2 separate regions of the Homo sapiens genome follow, and region 1 is linked to region 2. Evidence: fine-mapped expression QTL. A gene starts in region 2. The other region holds a variant in brackets. All regions are shown on one strand. Distances are between the middles of the regions.

What was found.
Region 1: its variant is fine-mapped to the expression of DERL1 in whole blood (TOPMed, PIP above 0.99).

Annotation. Positions count from the first base shown.
Region 1 is chr8:123,013,393-123,023,037 of GRCh38, forward strand. It overlaps DERL1 (derlin 1), which reads right to left. Exons shown (of 8, transcript NM_024295.6): 5 at 9,292-9,387; 6 at 8,055-8,107; 7 at 5,803-5,913; 8 at 1-2,193. The coding sequence ends at 2,055. The region is part of intron 1 of LOC124902013 (a long non-coding RNA gene); the gene reads left to right. Among named protein-coding and RNA genes, the nearest start is that of DERL1, 24 kb to the right of the region's middle. The variant C/T (reference allele first, on the strand shown) is at 5,163.
Region 2 is chr8:123,037,163-123,046,807 of GRCh38, forward strand. DERL1 (derlin 1) reads right to left here and starts at 5,140. Exons shown (of 8, transcript NM_024295.6): 1 at 4,808-5,140. The coding sequence starts at 4,960. It also overlaps the pseudogene RNY4P5. RefSeq lists enhancers at 501-630, 4,550-5,089.

The DNA.
Region 1 (9,645 bases), 24 kb before region 2:
AGTTTACAAAAAGGGAAGTCCTTTATACAAAATAAGGATTTTTTTTTTCCATTTGTAAAGAGAATCCACTGTCATGTTTTGCCTTGTCAAGTCAAAACTCAAATAGCTTGTTTTGGTAAAATTATTCCAGAAACATAATCCAGACAAAATCAATAACGTCATCAGCTTCCTAACCATGTTTAAGAGGAATAACTTCATGAACATTTTGCCCTGAACTGAAGAGTTCTAAATACTTGTAAACCTTTAGGAAAAAATGACTGCTCGCAGGCAGCTGACTGGTAAGAGGGTACACCAGAGACTCCGGGTCACTCACTGTCAGAATATTCTTATACATACAATGAGTCTCCACGCCTGTACAATGAGTGTACGTGCAACATAATTGGAGTAATGGCCTCTAAAATTTTACAAGTAAACTTTATTGTGGCCACAGATGAACAACAAAACATGACAGTTAAGGTTCAGACTCTCCCCACCTATTTTATCATATAAATTAAATATGGAGAGGTACACACAAACTCTATTCAAAATGAGAAGTTGTTTGCCAACTCTCATTTCCTAGGATAACACACATCACACTGTTTAAGAGTGGGGGAAAGAATAGTCATACTGTTAGAGCACAATGTTTCCTGAAAAGAAACTGATCAAAACGTTTGAAGCCTTTTTAGTTGCCTCAAAGTGTGACAGCCACTCAATACTGCTCCTAACAGTCTGCTTTCAGATAACGTCATAAAATAAAATAACTGTGTGAAAAGCCATGGCCTTCAAAAAACTTTATTTGGTTATGAGCCAAGCTCTGATAGGAAAAGCCCACCTACGAAAAAAAGGTGTGGGTATTTAAGCTGGTCTGATTCACAGAGCTTGTACATTCATGACTCAAAATAACACACCCTCAAACCCAAATGATTCTAAAGCCATTTCAACCTTAAATCATGTTATTCCCTTAGATGTGCTTACATTAGCTTTAAAAAATGATCTACGTGCAGAGAGGAGCTGCGCCTTCCTCACAATTAATTGAAACATGACCAAAAAACGGGGGATAGGCAAAAAAGTGACATTTAAATAGCGTATGAGGGTCTCTCCTCCTTTACTCAATGAACACATATCCAGAATGAGATTGAAATGGAATCAATGCCCAGGAGCCTCTCAAAGAGAGCATCTCCCTGTAGCCAACATGATCTGGATCCTCCTAACACAAAGCAACCCAACTACTCCAGCTACACAAAGCCAGTAGGCCTACATATGAAACGCAAAGGGGTTGCATCCCCCATGGTTTAAACCTAACCCATGTTAGCTGCAACTCCACTACAGTCTTGATCACTTAGCTCAGGAAACAAACACCCAGCAACAACCCTCGTATCTCATTAATACCAATCTGTGGCCCTCACTGACTCAGTGGTACTTTTTTATAAAAATATCTGAAGAAGTGGCAAACGGTTACAACGGATGTCAGGTCGAAGCAATTCCAAAAGCTGAGAAAACGCTTCATCCGCTGCTTGTCTTCTCCCCCTATTGCTACAGTTCTGCCACCAAAGGGGGAAAATTACGTGAATATGATTGTTGTGACCAAGCCTTGGCAAAAGTCAATAAATAACAGAACCTGTCAAGGGCAGAGCAATTTTATGGGCAACCTCTTCTAGTTGCAAATGTGGGGGTTGGGAAAAGTGGGAGAGAGGCATGTGTGCAAGAAAGAGATAAGGGTCCTTTTGGGAAGGGTTTGGTGACCCAGCCCCAGCTCAATGCCAGCAGACTAGGACCCGCTAAAACCCATTATTCAGACGGAAAGGGGAGAAGAGAAGACACCAAAAAATGTAGTCAGTTTTGCAATTTGCACAGTTGGTATTTGTTCTTCACAGCAGTAAGGACTTGAATGAGAATCGTGAAACTTGTGGAACACTTATATTTTTCTTCGGGATTTAAGAAACTTTGTCTCGTACTGAAAGACTACATTCAGTGTGGGTCAGGTCCAACAGTGTTAGCCAGAACGCAGTTGTTAAGTGCACCCAGCACTGGGAGGAAATGTGGCTTGAGAGGAGCGGCTGCCCGAGGCCGCCCCTTCACTGGTCTCCAAGTCGAAAGCCCTGGCCCCAGTTGTGTCTCCCGCCTCCGCCATTCTGATCAGCAGCTCGCCTCATGCTAGCAGGGGGCACACCAAATCCTGATACTCCTCCTCTCCTACTGGGCAGCCAGCGGTACCTGGTGCAGAAAGACGGGGACACAAACGGAGAGAAGAGAACAAAGTCACTTCCACATAGTTATCTGACCTCCGAGAACACCTCCCTCTCCTGCTGTTCCCATGGCACTTGTCATGTTGAAGGCAGCGAGGGACGTCTTATTTAACTTTGTCTTTTCTGTACTCAGCCCCATGACCTGACCACAGACGGCATTCGTTTTTCATGTTTCTTAAATGTATTCAGATTTCAGCTAAATTCACACTCTGAACGTTTTTTTCTCTGCTTATAAAAGTAATCCATGCAGAACAGTATGGAAACAAAAATATTACACCCACAAGCCCAGCAACCAAAGAATGACTGATAGCATCTTGGTATATCTAAATATGGCTCAAACTGGATCAAAGGATACAAAATACATTCACTTTCAAAGGCCAAATCCACAGCCTGCATGTTTGAGCCTTGCACAGCATTTCTAAAAGGCTCTCAGCTGAGCCCATCAAAGGAGACAGGGGAAGAAGGCTTTCTATGTTGGAAGTATGGGTATGTTTTAAAATTTATTCAGAATCTGCCTTCCAGGTACATTCTTCCCTTCTCACAGATGGTGGGAGAGCTGGGGCCCCAGACGGTTAGATGATTTCCCACCTTAAAATTAATAAACTAAGAGTTCACAGAACAGCTAAGAGAACTTAAACCCAAGCCTACACTCTCAATAGTATTTTCCAACTATTTCCCATCTTTGACTCTTTTATTAGTAAACTGAGAATGTGTTTAAACCTATTCCACTTAGCAGATCCTAATGTTTAAAATTTTGCTTGAAGGCAGAGAGCATGATCTGATACCTCCGCTTAAACCCTTCTTGGCAGCAAGAGTAAGTCATGACAGGTGACTTGTCCACAGCAGAAACCCTGAAGAGGACAGGCTTTATACTTGACCTTATACTAGAGCAGTTACTATGTGAATTTACTCAGTGATTATTGCCTTACACTAGGTGCTGCCTGCTTATAAATTCATCTGATCTTCACAATAACCCCATGAGGTAGGCATTACTATTACTCCTGTTTTATAAACAAGAAAATTGAGCCAACACTGAGTGAAGCGCTTCGAAAGTGACAGGATTCCAACCTAGTCAGCCTGGTTCCAGAGCCTGCGCCCTGCACTACTTGTTATACTACATGCATCCTGCCTGGGAAGGGACAGCAGTCAGTGACTGGAGTCTGTTTACATCATACTCGATACCTTCATGCCTCTTCCCAAAACAGACAACAACTCGGGTTTTTGTTTTTTTGTTTTTTTTTGAGACGGAGTCTCACTCTGTCACCAGGCTGGAGTGCAGTAGCATGATCTCAGCTCACTGCAACCTCCACCTCCCGGGTTCAAGCAATTCTCCTGCCTCAGCCTCCCGAGTAGCTGGGACAACAGGCGCCCGCTACCATGTCCAGCTAATTTTTGTATTTTTAGTGGAGCCAGGGTTTCACCATGTTAGCCAGGATGGTCTCGATCTCCTGACCTCGTGATCCACCCGTCGGCCTCCCAAAATGCTGGGATTACCGACGTGAGCAACCACGCCTGGCCAAAAACCCCTTTTAAACACAAAATTTAGTGTGTACAGAGAAGATATAACTACTCTAAATGGAATGGAAAATGGTGATACAAATGTATCAGCATTCCATTTAGAAAAGCAGTTATACCTTCCTATACTCACCTCCTCCATTTTAAACAAATACAGCTTTACCATTAAATCAAAATGTATTTTCCAAGTGCTGGTTTCTCAACATCCATGCCTTCTGGTACAATAATATTCCTCCAAAGTACATAATAAAATAGAACACTTGCTGGAGAAAATGCTAGGGCTGTCTTGCTTTGCTACTCACTCTAAGACAATATGGAAGCCATCTCCACTGCTTAAGTAGATAGTGAAATTAAATGCAAATAATTAGTATAAAAAGATACCCAATTATACATAATCAACAAAAATTTATGGTAATTTCAAAGCAGTTACTGCTTTTGCAAGGAGCTGTATTTTGTCATCTGATCTTTATGCAAAATTTAGCAGAAGGACTTCCCCCAACAGAGAAAGTTCAAGTGGAAGGCAGGCTCCAGGGCTCGCTGATTTTGCCACTAGAATCTTGTATCCTGTGTTGCCCACAACTGAGAAGTAGCTACAAGCCGTTAAGTTAGAATATGGCCATTTAAAGTAAAGTAACTGTTGGCTGCCCCCCAAAAGCACCAAGCTTTTTTTAATTGATGCATCTGCCATCCTACTTGATAAACCTAGATCAGAAAGCCAAACCTGCTGTTATTATGTCCTTTGATAATTAGAAACCAGATTGGTCATTTGTTTTTTTAGCCTGAAGGCAATTCAAGGCTCAGAAGAGAAACAAGTTTCTTTTTATTCTCTTAAAGAAAAACACACACACCACAACCACCAATATGGTATATCTCTGTATATTACAGTTCACAATTTGAAAAGTCTTTGAAAAACATACCCCTACCCTATAAAAGGAAGGGGAGAAAGAGGAGGCCTGCTCAAGTTTTACTGCCCTCACTGATCCCTTAGAGGAATGACAGAACTGCAAAACATTAAAATTAGCAAGATGTGGAAGGGTTTGGTTTGTTTGTTTTTTTAAAGCTTTCAAATGCAAGCTATTACTGCATATCCCTGATATGAGATTAGGCATGATTGTCAGGCAGGCTGTGACACCCAGATGGTGATTTAACTGGCCCGTTCTTCGACAGCCTTTTGCCTCACTGACAGAACGGTCACACGACTATTACATGCTTCTGGGTGTGTGCGCGTCTCCTCTCAGATCGTCAAAATCCTGCTCTCCTACCCCCACCTTTAGGAATATGGCAGCTAGCTTTACTTACCGAGAACCCGCTACTGTGCTTCCCAACAGTGTATCTTACCTCATGCAGTCCTGTGAGACAGGGGCTTCTCCCACAATTTACAGGCTTGCAAACTGAAGCTTGGAGGTTTGATTAAGTAACTTT[C/T]CCAGTATAAAAACTGCTATCTGAGGGGACTGGGATTCAAATCCAAGTTTGTCTCAAAAATCAAAGCTGTTGCCCTTACCAGCCCACTTCAGTAAACCCTAAAAGCAGATAAAGAGCACAAACTCCCAGGGGGTTGGGCCTATACAAACCTCAAGTCTCTCATTTTAACTCTGAACAGTCCTGTAAAATGTCTACTCCATAGTATTTAATATAAAAATGTTTAAAATTGCTGACCAACACGCTAACTTACCCTTCCTTGGGCAAAATCATGGGTAAAAACTGATGGGCCAAGAAAAGACACCCCACTAACCTGTGACTCTGCCCATTCACCAGCCTACTGTTTCGCACTCTGGAGTTGCATCAGGTCCCTCAGCAGGCTCAGAGAGCTGAGATGCCTCCTGTAATGTTGGAATCTAGTTGTCAGTGGTCCCTGGCTAAAAGAGTAACAGGAAGGCAACTGAGCCTAAGCTTTAATCCCTAACTTCCTGTGACTGTGTGACTAGGGTAAGTCACTTGTTGCCTCAGGTTTCTCCAGCAGATGGGGCATAGGGGTAAATCATACTCCTCATGGAGCTCTCATTAGGATGCACTAAGAACACAGGCAGTAAAATGTTAGATGAGACAGGACAAAAACACTTACAAAAACTGAGGTGTGGATAGAAAATTTCTTCCTCCCAAGTCCATTGGGTATCTGAACATTAGGAAAAAATAAAGATGTCCAACCAGATTTCCAATAAGCTCATTGATTACCCTGCAAAGAGAGCCAAATGAGTTTAAAGACATTCAAGCAATAGAGATGCACCAAGTTTTAACTAATAGCATAAGGAAGAGAGCCTTCAAGGCAGCCCATTTAGTCCCTGGGAGTCTGTGAGAGCTGACAATGAGCACTTTTGTAGTCTGAGTGGCAAATGCATTCTGAGGGAGACGGGAAATCAGTCCTGCTGAACCAATGAGGCCTGCCACTCTTCAAGGCCAGCAGCCCCTCTGACCTCTCTTTCAAGCACCAGCCCATCCTCAAAATATTGTTTTTGCTACTTCCTGCCTCAAGAGTTGGGGAAGTTGCAAAGCATGCTTCTGAATGCTTTCAGTCATGAATATTGTATTTATAAAATGTGGGCAAACATGAAGGCTACCAAGAGAGAAGCGTGGGAGTAAGGAAAAGAGGAACAATAAATGCCTGTTCCCCCTTTCCTGGAGCCATTAAGCACTTCTCCCTTGCCTCTTGTATCCTTGAGTGTAAGACACCACAGAGATCACTTAGGAAAGCCGACTTGCACCCTGAAATCAACGCTGACCTTCTTCAGTTTTCCCTTGGCTTACATACAGGTCACCTCAAGAGTGTATAGATCTACTGTTACTATTACAAATCCTCTTTGTCTTCACCTGCAACATGATTCCCGTCAGGGGCAAATCAACACCTGCAACTACTTCAGACTTCACCTTCCTGGGTGGAAGAGCAGCTTTGCCAAGTTCAGAACATGCTTTGCTCTAAACAGTCTGCTCCATCCATTCACTTCTCCCCAGCAATATGCAGAAGAAGTTAGGATCACACAGAGCAAATATGTCAGACACATGAAGAACCAGCAATATAAAAATGGATTGAAATATTAAAAGTAGTTTGTAGTATAAGAAATGGGAGTTCTGGCTGGGTGCAGTGGCTCATGCCTGCAATCCCAGCACTTTGGGAGGCCAAGGTGAGCGGATCATTTGAGGTCAGAAGTTTGAGACCAGCCTGGGCAACACAGCGAAACCTCATCTCTACAAAAAATACAAAAATTAGCTGGGTGTGGTGGTGCACACCTGTAATCCCATCTACTCGGGAAGCTGAGGCATGAGAATTGCTTGAACCTGGGAAGCAGAGGTTGCAGTGAGCCAAGATCACGCCACTGCACTCCAACCTCGGTGACAGAGCCAGACCCCATCTTGAAAAAATAAATAAGTAAATAAATAAACAGAAAAAATGAAGAAATGGGAGTTCTTAGAGAAGTTGCATCTTGGTATCCTCCCTTTAAAATTCTGACTGGATAAATTAAAGCTATTCCTATGTCTAGCTCTAATTCCTGACCAATAGACTAGATATTTGACCCTGGTTGGCCAAAAGTTCTGTATTATCATCCAGGCATGGTGGCTCATGCCTGAAATCCCAGCACTTTAGGAGGCCAAGGCAGGCAGATCATTTGAGGTCAGGAGTTTGAGACCAGCCTGGCAAACATGGCAAAACCCCATCTCTACTAAAAATCCCAAAAAAAAAAAAAAAAAAAAATAGCCGGGCATGGAGGCGGGCGCCTGTAATCCCAGCTACTCGGGAGGCTGAGGTAGGAGAATTGCTTGAACCCATGAGGCAGAGGTTACAATGAGCCAAGATCGCACCATTGCACTCCAGCCTGGGCAACAAAAGTGAAACTTCGTCTCAAAAAAAAAAAAAAAAAAGTTCTGTATCATCAAACCACTTGCAAAATTATATCCTATCTAAGAATCTGGATTTCTATGACCGATAGGCAGTTTCCAAGGCATTCTGGAAATGCCTTAAGAATATAAGACATAGTAATTTTATACATAGCTCTTAGAGGAGCCAACTCAGACAAAAATTAGGTCTCTGTTTGCCCAATCAGAATAGTGAATCCAGAAATACATATTTATTCCTGTACTATACACATAGGAACATACTGTGTGTAACAATAAGTTAACAAAATCACAACCATTCAAGGTTAAATATGCTTAAAGCCCTGCAATCTAATCAATTCAATCGAAGTGAAATTATTCCATAAATATAGGGTTCTAATGCGTCAATGTTGAGATTCTTTAAAGTTGTATAAAGGTTAGAGAAAGATAAAAACTAATGGAAATTTTCCAAGGATTAGTTTCCAATTAAATAAATCTAATATCACTTACGAGCCTCCGATGATATAGTTGAATCCAAGGATAACCCAGGGTAAATAGCAGGCCTAGGATGGAATGAATATATGCAAATGTGAGTAGCCACACCTGACGAGGACACAGCTACTACGGGGACTAAAGTGGGTAAGGATACACTGACAAGGGCTTTATATAAATCCTCTGGAAGGTCACTGCAAAATTTCTAGGATCAATCTAGCATTATTCCCACTATACTTAAACCTTCCTATCTAAAACTAGACTTAATTGTGTATTTGTAACTGGAAGGACACAGTACTTTGCCCACAGGTCTGATGCAATACAGGCCCTGCTGAACTGCTATAAACAGACAGCTTCAAAAAGCAGATGAGTGTCCTACAGATGCTACTAAAAGCAAGGCCCATGAGAGAATCACACTAAGATTCCAGCCAACAAATTGCTACAAATAAAATAAACATACCCCATCTTTTTAGGTTCTTCTTTTACATATCTTGCAAAATTCCTCTGAATTTTTATCTCATTATGCATTGATATCTTAAACTAATACTCTCCCAAATAAGAAAGCTCTCCAGATGAACTCAACATTTGAGCCCCTTACCAAATCCAAGACATCATACCAAGAGCTAAAGGAGTTGCAAGAAACTTCACAAACTAGGAAAGAGAGGGTTATACTCAAATAACTTTACAGCTACATGTGCTAAGTACTAAAGAGAAACACAAAGTATTGAAAAAGCCCAAACGTAAGACTAATTCTAGGCAGGAGATTCAGGAAATATGTTCAGTTCCAACTCAAATTAAGAATGGGTAGGATTTATACAAAGAAGAGAATCAAGATGTTACAGGTGGAAAATTGTGAAAGAATGTACAAAGAGAAGTGTTTGGGGGCAAAAACAATCTGTTTCAGCTACAGTATAAAGCAAATAACAGGGAACGAGGGAGGGATAAGAACAGATTTTTAAAGCAGGGTTTCACATGAGTTATCTCTCCTTCTCTCTAACACAGACACATAAGATCACTCAGGGACATAACCTTGAGGGGCCCGAGGTACAGAGGGAGTGAAGAAACAAAGGCCAGCAACGGACTCCAGGCTGGCTAATTAAATAGAGCTGGGATTGAGGAGGGCAGAAAGGGGCTTGCCTATGGTACACTGCTCTGCAGTGACCCCTTCTGGATGAGTCAGAAAGTACATCTCTGGACTGAAGAGGGATTTCTGCAGACAAATGAAAAGGACACTTTTCCAACCAAGGCAAAGTACCTTAAATCGTGTTCCAAACCAAAATGATACAATCATGTCTCTGTTCAGCTGGGCCCAGACATAAAGTACTGACATGATCAGAGGAATCATCAGCAACTGCAAAAGAAGTCGACATGTAAAAACCAGGCTCCAGAGGCACTTAAAAAAGGTGTACATCTACTATGCTTTTTACCCCTCCTCTTCACAACAATCCTCACCTGGGTAAAGGGAAACTCAACTGATCAGAATTATAAATTGATCCTATTATTTATCATACAATAAATATTACAAAATCCTATAATAAAATACAACAAAACTATATTATTTTAGATGGATTCAGAAATGTAAGAGTCAAGCTCTGTTATTTACAAAAAG
Region 2 (9,645 bases):
ACCAACCACGTAGGAGGCAACTATTTTTGAATAGCTTATTTATCAGGCTACTTATTGGGTATTACAAACATTTTTCTATGTGTTCTACATACTAGAGGCAAGAAGTAGATAACATATTTCCTCAATTTGAAGGTACTCGTTCCTGTGTTTCTGAAATTAGAGTGTCTTACAATCAATACACTCGTTGAATGTAATTTCTACTCCCCTGTCCCCCAAAAAAGTTGCATTAAATTGATGGTGCATCGTATAATCAATGGAGTCTTAGAACAAAGTTAATATGCTATGATATTATCCTCAGATCCTAAAGAAATTGAGGCTCAGACAGGATAAATAACTTGCCTAAGGGTACACAACTAGCAGGGGACTGAGCCAGGCCTTGAGACCATGATTCAACTACTTGAAATCTAACAGCCTTTCTACTCGAATAGAAAAGGAAAAACAATTTGCTATGATTGATTTGGAAGAAATCACCTTCAAAAATGTTTTGCTACATACTTATTTTTTTCGTAGATATTATGCAAAGGAGTTAAACAAAACAGCTTAGAACTATCCTTGACTCAACGAAATAGAAACTGAAACTGAAGCTGTCTACAAAATGGGGGTAACACTTATCTCAGGATGACTGTCAGAGTTCAGTGACATGACCTCAGGGAAGTTGTAACAGGGTGATGTTATTTTGTCCAAAGAAATGAAGAAATATAGCCATGCAGGCGGCCCTGGGAGACATAACCTTAGAAAACACAAAGGCAGCAGGAATTGCCACCTCTTGTGTAGTTAATCAACGATTAATATGAAGACATTTCATTATTGTGAACTATTTGATTGATGAACATAAATCTGAGGGACTCAGAATAGGGAGAAATCGTAGACAACAGTATAATGAGTCTTAACACACACCTGTTTCAACCTATCCAAACTAAAGAAATAACATTATAAACCTCAGCGTTCTAAACCAACAAGCTACACACAAGAATCTAGAGCTGAGGAGGAAAAATAACTTGTCACTTCCAACATGAGCACACAATTCTAAATCAATCACTCCCCCATTTTTGTAAGTTGTGAAAGATTCAGCTTCTAAGGAAAAAAGGAACTTTCTAGCAGAACTCTGCTAAAGCACACCGCACACTGTCCGTGCACAGCAGCCTCTCAAATGCAGTTTTTCCTTGACTGCTTCATTTGCAAATGAGTTCCTCCAGGTGGGTCTGAAAGTTACATGTGTCCAAAATAGGCAAGAATCAGAGTAACAGGAAGAAAAGACAAGGTACAGCTGTTGGTCTTTTCACACCTGGGCAGTACACTGTCCTGCCTCCTGCTGGCAGCTGAGAAGAAATAATACAGGGAAGATGACAAAATTGTGGAAGATGTGACAAGAACGATTACTCTTTTTAATCAGTTCACCACTTTTAACCTTATACACCCGCAGCCTGTTAGGCTTATTTACATTGCTTCTTTACAATGTGCTTATTTACATCGTGTAGTCACTAGTGTCACTACACAAGTGAGGATTTTGCTAACAGGGACAACAAGCCGGTTTTGACCAGGTCCTTCTCACACATTAATATGCCACCATTGCTCCCCATGACCACACATTACCCAACAAGCCACCAGGGACAAAGTACACAACATTCTCTCAGCCAACAAATATTTAGTAAAGTAATAAACACAGAACAGTATGCAATTCCAGCTGCACTCCAGAGTCATGTTTTTATATCCAACTGCTCCCTTGGCCTCGCCACATGGATGCCTGAAAAGCATCTCAAGACTTAGCACAGCCAAAACCTAACTCTTCATCCATACCAGCCCCCACTCCCAACCCAGGTATCCCTGACCATTCCCCATCTCAGTCAAGGGCTCCGCCATCCACTCAGCTGCTCCTGTGAAAACAGTAGTATCTTTCAGTCCTGCTCGCTTCACCCATTCACTCTTTATATCCATTCGGCTGTAATCTCGTCCCCTCTGCCAAGTCTATGCCCTTTTCTCTATCTTCACAGCCACACTGATCCAAACCACCATCTCTCTGGCCTCCTAACTGGATTCATCTCTCTGATCTCATCACCTAGCCCTTCCTCCTTCAACCCCCTCCATACACACACAAAGTCCACTCCACAGAATAGTCGGGGCAATCTGTCAGTCCTTTGTTCACAAGGCTCCAAAGACTTCATAGTGCCCTCAAAATAAAGTTCAAACCTCTTAACATGACCTACAAGGCTCAACTATGATCTAGCTTTAACCCACCTTTCCATCTTAGCTTTACTACACCCAGCCCTGGCTATCTCCCTGCTGTCATCTACTAATCCTCACCCTACAGCTGACCCTGTGCCAGCTGGCAACCCAGTCTTCTTCCTGTTCCCAGCTCCTACTTCTGAGCCTTTCACTTACTAGTCCTTCCTGGAAGGTTGTCTCCAGAGCCAGATCTACCCAAAGCTGGCTGGCTGGCTCCTCAGTATTCCAATTTCTTCAAATGTCTTCTCTGAGGCCTTTCTGGGTGGAACACCCTATCAAATATTACACCCCTTAAAACACGTGCCTCTATGTCTTCACAGGCTCTGAAACCTTTTCAGTCCTATTTACTATTGTACCCCAGTGCCCAGCACACAGCAAGTGCCCAATTACTTCCAACAACTCAGTTAATATATAAGCACCTACTACGTCCCAGGCACTATTCCAGGTAACAAGGACAGTGGTGAACGGCTCTCATGGAGCCTTATTCTCTGAGGGGAAGCAGACTAATAAATACCAAAGGGTAATATGTAGCAAGAAAAATGAAGGATAAGGCCAGGCTCAGTGGCTCACGCCTCTAATCCCAGCACTTTGGGAGGCTGAGGCGGGTGGATCACCTGAGGTCAGGAGTTCAAGACCAGTCTGGCCAACATGGCGAAACCCCGTCTCTACTAAAATACAAAAATTAGCTGGGCATGGTGGTGTGCACCTGTAATTCCAGCTACTTGGGAGGCTGAGACAGGAGAACTGCTTGAACCCAGGAGACAGAGGTTGCAGTGAACCAAGATTGCGCCATATACACTCCAGCCTGGGCAACAGAGCGAGACTCCGTCTCCAAAAAAAAGAAAGAAAGAAAGAAAAATGAAGGATAAGGGATAAGGGAGTGGAGTGAAGGACGGGCTATTTTATGTACGGCCATCAGAGAAGGCCTTGTCAACAAGACGGCATTTGGGCAGAGATCTGAAGAAGGTTAGGAGGTAAACAACTGAGCCACGGTTATCTTCCTCAGGCAGAGAAACAACATGTGCAAAGGCCCTGAGGAGAGATCCAGATAAGCACTGAAGTAACAGCAAGGATCTCATTGTGGAGCCTAAGGTACAAGTTGGAGAGTAGTAGGAGATGAGGTCAGAGAAGCAGCAGGGGCCTTGCAGGCCACTGAAAGGACTTGGATTTTACTCATTAAGAAGACATGGTAGGATTCTGGACAGAGGAAAGACAGGACTTGATGTAGGTTTTAAAAGGATCACTCTAGCTGTCTAGAGAAAAGATGGAAAGGAACCAGATTGCAGTGATAATGGCTTGCAATGGAGAATGAAAAGGGATTGTATTCTGGATATATGTCTCAAGTAGAGTCAATAGGATTTGCTGACAGATTGTGGGGTGTGAGAAAAACAAGAAAAATAAAAGATGACTCCGACAATTAACTTCAGCTCCTCTAATAACGGAGTTGCTATTCACTTCTAAGGCAAAGGGGGAAAGGGGATTCAGTTTTGGACACGTTAAGATGAAGATGACTCTTAGTCATCCAAGTCGTGATTTCAAGTAACTGCTGGATGCACAAATCTGGAAATAGGGAGACAGATCTGGACTGAAGATATTTATATTTATATTTCAGAATCTCCAGTTTATAGAAAGTATGTAAAGCCCTGAGGCTGAATGAATGAGACCACCTAAAGCTAGGGAGAGTCTATAGAAAAGGTCCTATAACTGATTCCCAAGGCACATCCTAACATTTAAAAGTCAGGAAGATAAGGAACCAGCAAAGGAAACCAAGAAGTAACACCCAGTGAAGACAGGGAAAGACAAGAAAATGTTATCCATAGGCCAAGTAAAGGGCTGAAATTAATGCCAGATCTTGCTATCTGACCTGCCACTGATTGAAGTTTTAAATCAGAAATTGGTGAATACAGATAACCTTCAGAAAACTGGCACTCTCTTGACAGAAATGTTACTCTGGACTGTTTCCTTCATGCTTAAGAAAATAACAAGGCCTTCCATTTCTGGACAAATGTACTCTTTGCCCATTCCTTCGTACATTCTATTACTACGTGGGGGACACTAAATTAGGTCTAGAGGGAAATGCAGAACAATACACTCGTTCTTTGTATCTCTGACTTTAAATCACTCCTATAGGAAAACCAAAACAAAAAAACTCCATAAACGTGAAAGGAACTCAGCTATAAGTTGGTGAAGTTGACACCTACAGGCCACCCACGTGGGTGACAGAGGGAGGTCAGAGGGCAATGCTCCAGGCGGACCTAATCGCCAGCGTCCAACAGATTGACAACTACCAACGACTAATCTCACTGCTTCCTTCACTGAGTGCGAAGAGCGGGAAGCACAATCTCACTATACCAGTGAAGTCAACCCCTCCCCACCAGGCCAGCCCACAACTCCAGCTATCCAGCACCCCGCTCCAGATCCCAGAGCCTCCCCGGGCCCAAAGGACCCCGCCCTAAACCGCCGGCGCCGGACCCACTACAAATCCCAGCAGGCACCGCGCGCCCGCAACATGCCAGCCTACGCTTAGCCGCCGCTGGGCCTCCTGGGGCCTGTAGTCTCCACGCCCCCCGTCTCCGGTAAGTACCTGAAAGCGATAAAGGAAGGCTTCGGGCCAGAGGAAGAGGTAGGCCGGGCTGATGAGGCCGAGTTTGCCGACCAAGGGCACGGCGACGGTGGCGGCGAACCAATAGCGCGTGATCGCCGGGATGCTCCTGAACCAGTCTCCGATGTCCGACATCTTCGACCCACAGGTAGCCAAGATGCACAAGACCGCCCGACTCCCCGTGCCGACCCCCTCACGACGCGGCCGGCTCCGCGACTGTTAGGTGTCTAGGTGGAAGCCGCCGAAGCCGCGATGCAGAAGGCGGAGACGGGCGGACGTGGCGCCACCGAATTCGGACCAGCGAGGCAGCCTTCTGAGGCGAAACTTCCCCTTCCGGCGACCGCGGACGACGTGACCAGAAGTCCCGCCGCTTAAAGGGTAAGCGCCGATTTTACCGCCCGGCCGAGGCTCGGCGTCCTGGGGGGCGGAGCCAGGTAGAGCGACTACACGACTGGTGGGAAAACAGTGGTTGCCTGGATCAACGGCAAACGCTCCGGCCAGTGGCGAGGCCAAATGCCATTCACCTAGTTCTCAGAGTTTTAATGCGGCTGGGTCCACCTGGAGGGTATTTAAAGGGGACGAAGGCAAACGAAGTGTCTAGTTCCTCGTCTGCTTACTCATTCCACAAGTGTTTGTTGGGCACAGTTCTAGACACTGGGCAGCTGCGGCTGTCAGCGCTGTCGTGGTACCCTCTCTCCTGATCTTAACATCCTCATTGGGATAATTTATAAACAAATAGATAATGAAGTAAGATAATCTCAGAGAGTGATTAGAAAAATAGGAAAATGAAATGAGATGATGAGGTGGAGTGACGGGGTGGGGGTGCGGCAGTGTGAGGACAGATGGCTACCTTAGGTATGAACTGGGCCAGCCAGGCAAGAGATCTGGGGGAAGAATTTTCCATGCACAGAGAAAAGCCGCTCTAACTAGGTTGGAATGTTGGAGGAACTAAAAGCCAAAATGATCCATCTTGTCTAATTCAACTTGTATAAGAAGGAATCTTTAAGAAAAGATACTGGCCAGGCGCGGTGGCTCACGCCTGTAATCCCAGCACTTTGGGAGGCCGAGGCGGGCGGATCACGAGGTCAGGAGTTCGAGACCAGCCTGGCCAACATGATGAAACCCCGTCTCTACTAAAAATACAAAAATTAGCCGGGCATGGTGGAGGGCGCCTGTAGTCCCAGCTACTTGGGAGGCTGAGGCAGGAGAATCGCTTGAACCCGGGAGGTGGAGGTTACAGCGAGCCGAGATTGCACCATTGCACTCCAGCCTGGGGGACAAGAGCCAGACTCCATCTCAAAAAAAAGAAAAAAAGAAAAGATACTGAGTAGAGTTTCCCGTTGTTTTGGGATTTGGGGCCAGCAGTTTAAGATTGCTAAAGTCTTCCAATAAAGAGCACCAGGAACAAACCTGTAGTCAACAAAGTTAGATTTATTAACTTGCTGCAGCAAGGGAGACTGCACTCCAGAGGAACCTCAATGCCTCTCATCAAACGGAAGTGTCATTATTGGGTTATGGGAATGGGGGGATTTTTTGGTAAGAATTAACTGGAGCAGTGTTTGATAGACTCGAAGCAAAGCAGAGCTGTGTGCAGCATCAGGTTAACATCAGACCTGAGTAGGAAGCAGGCTCTTTCCTTGGAAATCTCAAAATTACGACAAATGTGAAACGTTGGGTCTGAAAACTCTATCTAAAGCTTTGTACCTGTATTGAAAATCCTGTGTCAAAGTGACCTGTATGGCTCAGATGCTCTGGACAAGAATGGGATGTTCCATTCACACGGAAAGGATGTCAGACAGCAGAGTTTCCAACATTCCATAATTTTAGAGAATATTTGTCAGCACCATATCCTTGATGTTAATTAATAAAAACAGTTTTTTCATAACAAAAAGGCATTAAATATTCCACAGTGTAATGAGAGTATACAACATTTGGGAACCAATGGATAGCAAATCTACGAAGAACACAGCTGGTGGGAATATAAATTGATACAGCCTTACAAAAAGATAATTTTGATATAAAAGCTAGATATTTATATAAATAACAGATAATACTTGACGATATTGCCTGAGGTTTATTCTGTTTATTTCCCTCTACTACCACCACCATTGTTTTGTACCCACTACTCATAACCAAGGTACAGTGAAAGAAAACAGGGGTTATCTGGCTTAGGTGGAGGGCTAAGGAAAGTTTCTCTGATAAACTTAAAAGTACACGTGCATGAGAAAAGACAAGAACAAGAAAAATGTACACCCAATATCTGGCAGTGTTTATTTCTTTTTTTTTTTTTTTTTTGAGACGGAGTCTTGCTCTGTCGCCCAGGCTGGAGTGCAGTGGCGGGATCTCGGCTCACTGCAAGCTCCGCCTCCCGGGTTCAAGCGATTCTGCTGCCACAGCCTCCCGAGTAGCTGAGACTACAGGCGTCCGCCAGCACGCCCGGCTAATTTTTTGTATTTTTAGTAGAGACGGGGTTTCACCGTGTTAGCCAAGATGGTCTCAATCTCCTGACCTCATGATCTGCCCGCCTCGGCCTCACAAAGTGCTGGGATTACAGGCGTGAGCCACCGCGCCCGGCCTGGCAGTGTTTATTTCTAAGTTGTGCTCTAGAATTCATAGTGAATGCTCTGGAATTCAACTTCGGCCTTTAGAAACACTGAAGTTTAAATCAGAGCAACGGTAGGCCAGGTATGTCTGGTCTTTTCTTGTAACTTTACATTCAAAGGCTTTCTGGCTGGTCCGATGGTAGTGATTTATCAGAACTTATTAACATTAGTGTCACTAAAGTTGGTATACAACCCCCCACTGCTAAATTTGACTGGCTTTTAAAAATATTTATTATTTTTAAATAATATTGAATATTTATTAAATTTATTATTAATTTATTAATAATATTATTTAAATAATTATTTTTTAAAGGCTTTCTCTTTCTACAAAGTCTTAATAATCATTTTAATGACTAATATTCTACTAGTGATGTGGCAGAATCTTTTGACCATTTTCCTATTTCTGATACCTGTTTTTAAATACTATATATAGTTCTATAATGAATACCTTTATGCATATACATTTTATACTAATAGCTAACTTTTTTATTTACTAATATCTAACATTTGCTGAGTGTCTACAGTTTGATTGGCACTCAGCTATGCCCTTTATGGGCATGGTTTTAATTAGTCTTTACAACAATGCTTCAACCCTATGAAGTACTTTTATTTCCATTTACAAATGAAGAAACAGCCTTAGAGAAGTTAAGTAACTTGGCACTTGCCGGCAGGTGCATATATAAAACTTCAACCCAGATCTATTTAAAGCCAAAGGTGGTGCTTTTTTTTTTCTTTTTTTTTCTTGAGACAGCGTCTCCCTCTCGCTTCTGTCACCCAGGCTGGAGTGCCAGTGGCGCAATCTCGGCTCACTGCAAACTCCGCCTCCTGGGTTCAAGCAATCCTCCTGCCTCAGCCTGCCAAGTAGCCAGAATTACAGGTGTCCACCACCATGCCTGGCTACTTTTTTGTATTTTTAGTAGAGACAGGGTTTCGCTATGTTGGCCAGGCTGGTTCCAAACCCCTGGCCTCAAGTGATCCACACACCTCGGCCTCCCAAAGCGCTGGGACTACAGGCATGAGCCACCACGCCCAGCCCAAAGGTGGTGCTCTTTCATTCATTTATTCAGCAATGCTTTTGTCCAGTGCTTGTTATATACCAATAACAGTTCTAAACAGTGAACTAAACTGACAATTATCTCCACCCTCTTGGAACTTACATTCTAGAGGAGGCAGAAAGACAACAGAAAGAGATAAAAGTAAGATGTACAGGCTGGGCGCGGTGGCTCACGCCTGTGATCCCAGCACTTTTGGGAGGCCAAGGTGGGCAGATCACCTGAGGTCAGGAGTTCGAGACCAGCCTGGCCAACATGGGGAAACCCCGTCTCTACTGAAAATACAAAAATTAACCGGGCATGGTGGCATGCGCCTGTAATCCCAGCTACTCAGGAGGCTGAGGCAGGAGAATCACTTGAACTCGGGAGGTGAAGTTTGCAGTGAGCTGAGATTGCGCCATTGCACTCCAGCCTGGGCAACAAGAGCGAAACTCCTCTCAAAAAAAAAAAAAAAAAAAGTAACATGTACAGTAGGTAAACTGGCAATAGGAATAGGAAAAGAAAAAAGAAGAAAAGGAGATTTGGGCTGGTGAGGGAAGGCCTCACTGCAAACTCAGAAGATATTGAGTACACGTCTCAGGGTGGTGAAAGAGCAAGCAGTGTGGAGATCTGGAGGAAGAACAGTTCAGATAGAAGGAATGGCAAAGACCTTGAGGTGGGAATGTGGCTGGCATGGAGACCTTAAACACGAAGACCCATGTGGCTGAGTGGAGCGAGAGTGGGGATGGAGGGTCAAGAGACAAAGGAAGGAGAGAGTCACTGGAATCATGGAGGACACTGTAGGTTATGGAAAGGACCTTGTATTTTACTGTTCTTACCCACTAGGCCACACTGCCTCTCGATCCTTTTGTTGAACTGATTTCCAGGAGTAGGATTTAAAATAAAAAGATATTAACAGCTCAATGACTTTTCCTCCCAGAGGTGGTGTGATTGTGAACCTAATCAAACTTAGGCTACAGGACCCCTCACTTGCACAGGCCTTTCCAAGGCTCTGTGCAAAACTTTGTAAATTTTTTTTTTTTTTGAGACAGAGTTTTCACTCTCTTGCCCAGGTTGCCCAGGCTGGCATGCAGTGGTGTGATCTCGGCTCACTGCAACTTCTGCCTTCTGGGTTCAAGCGACGCGCGTGCTTCAGTCTCCCAAGTAGCTACGATTACAGGCACCT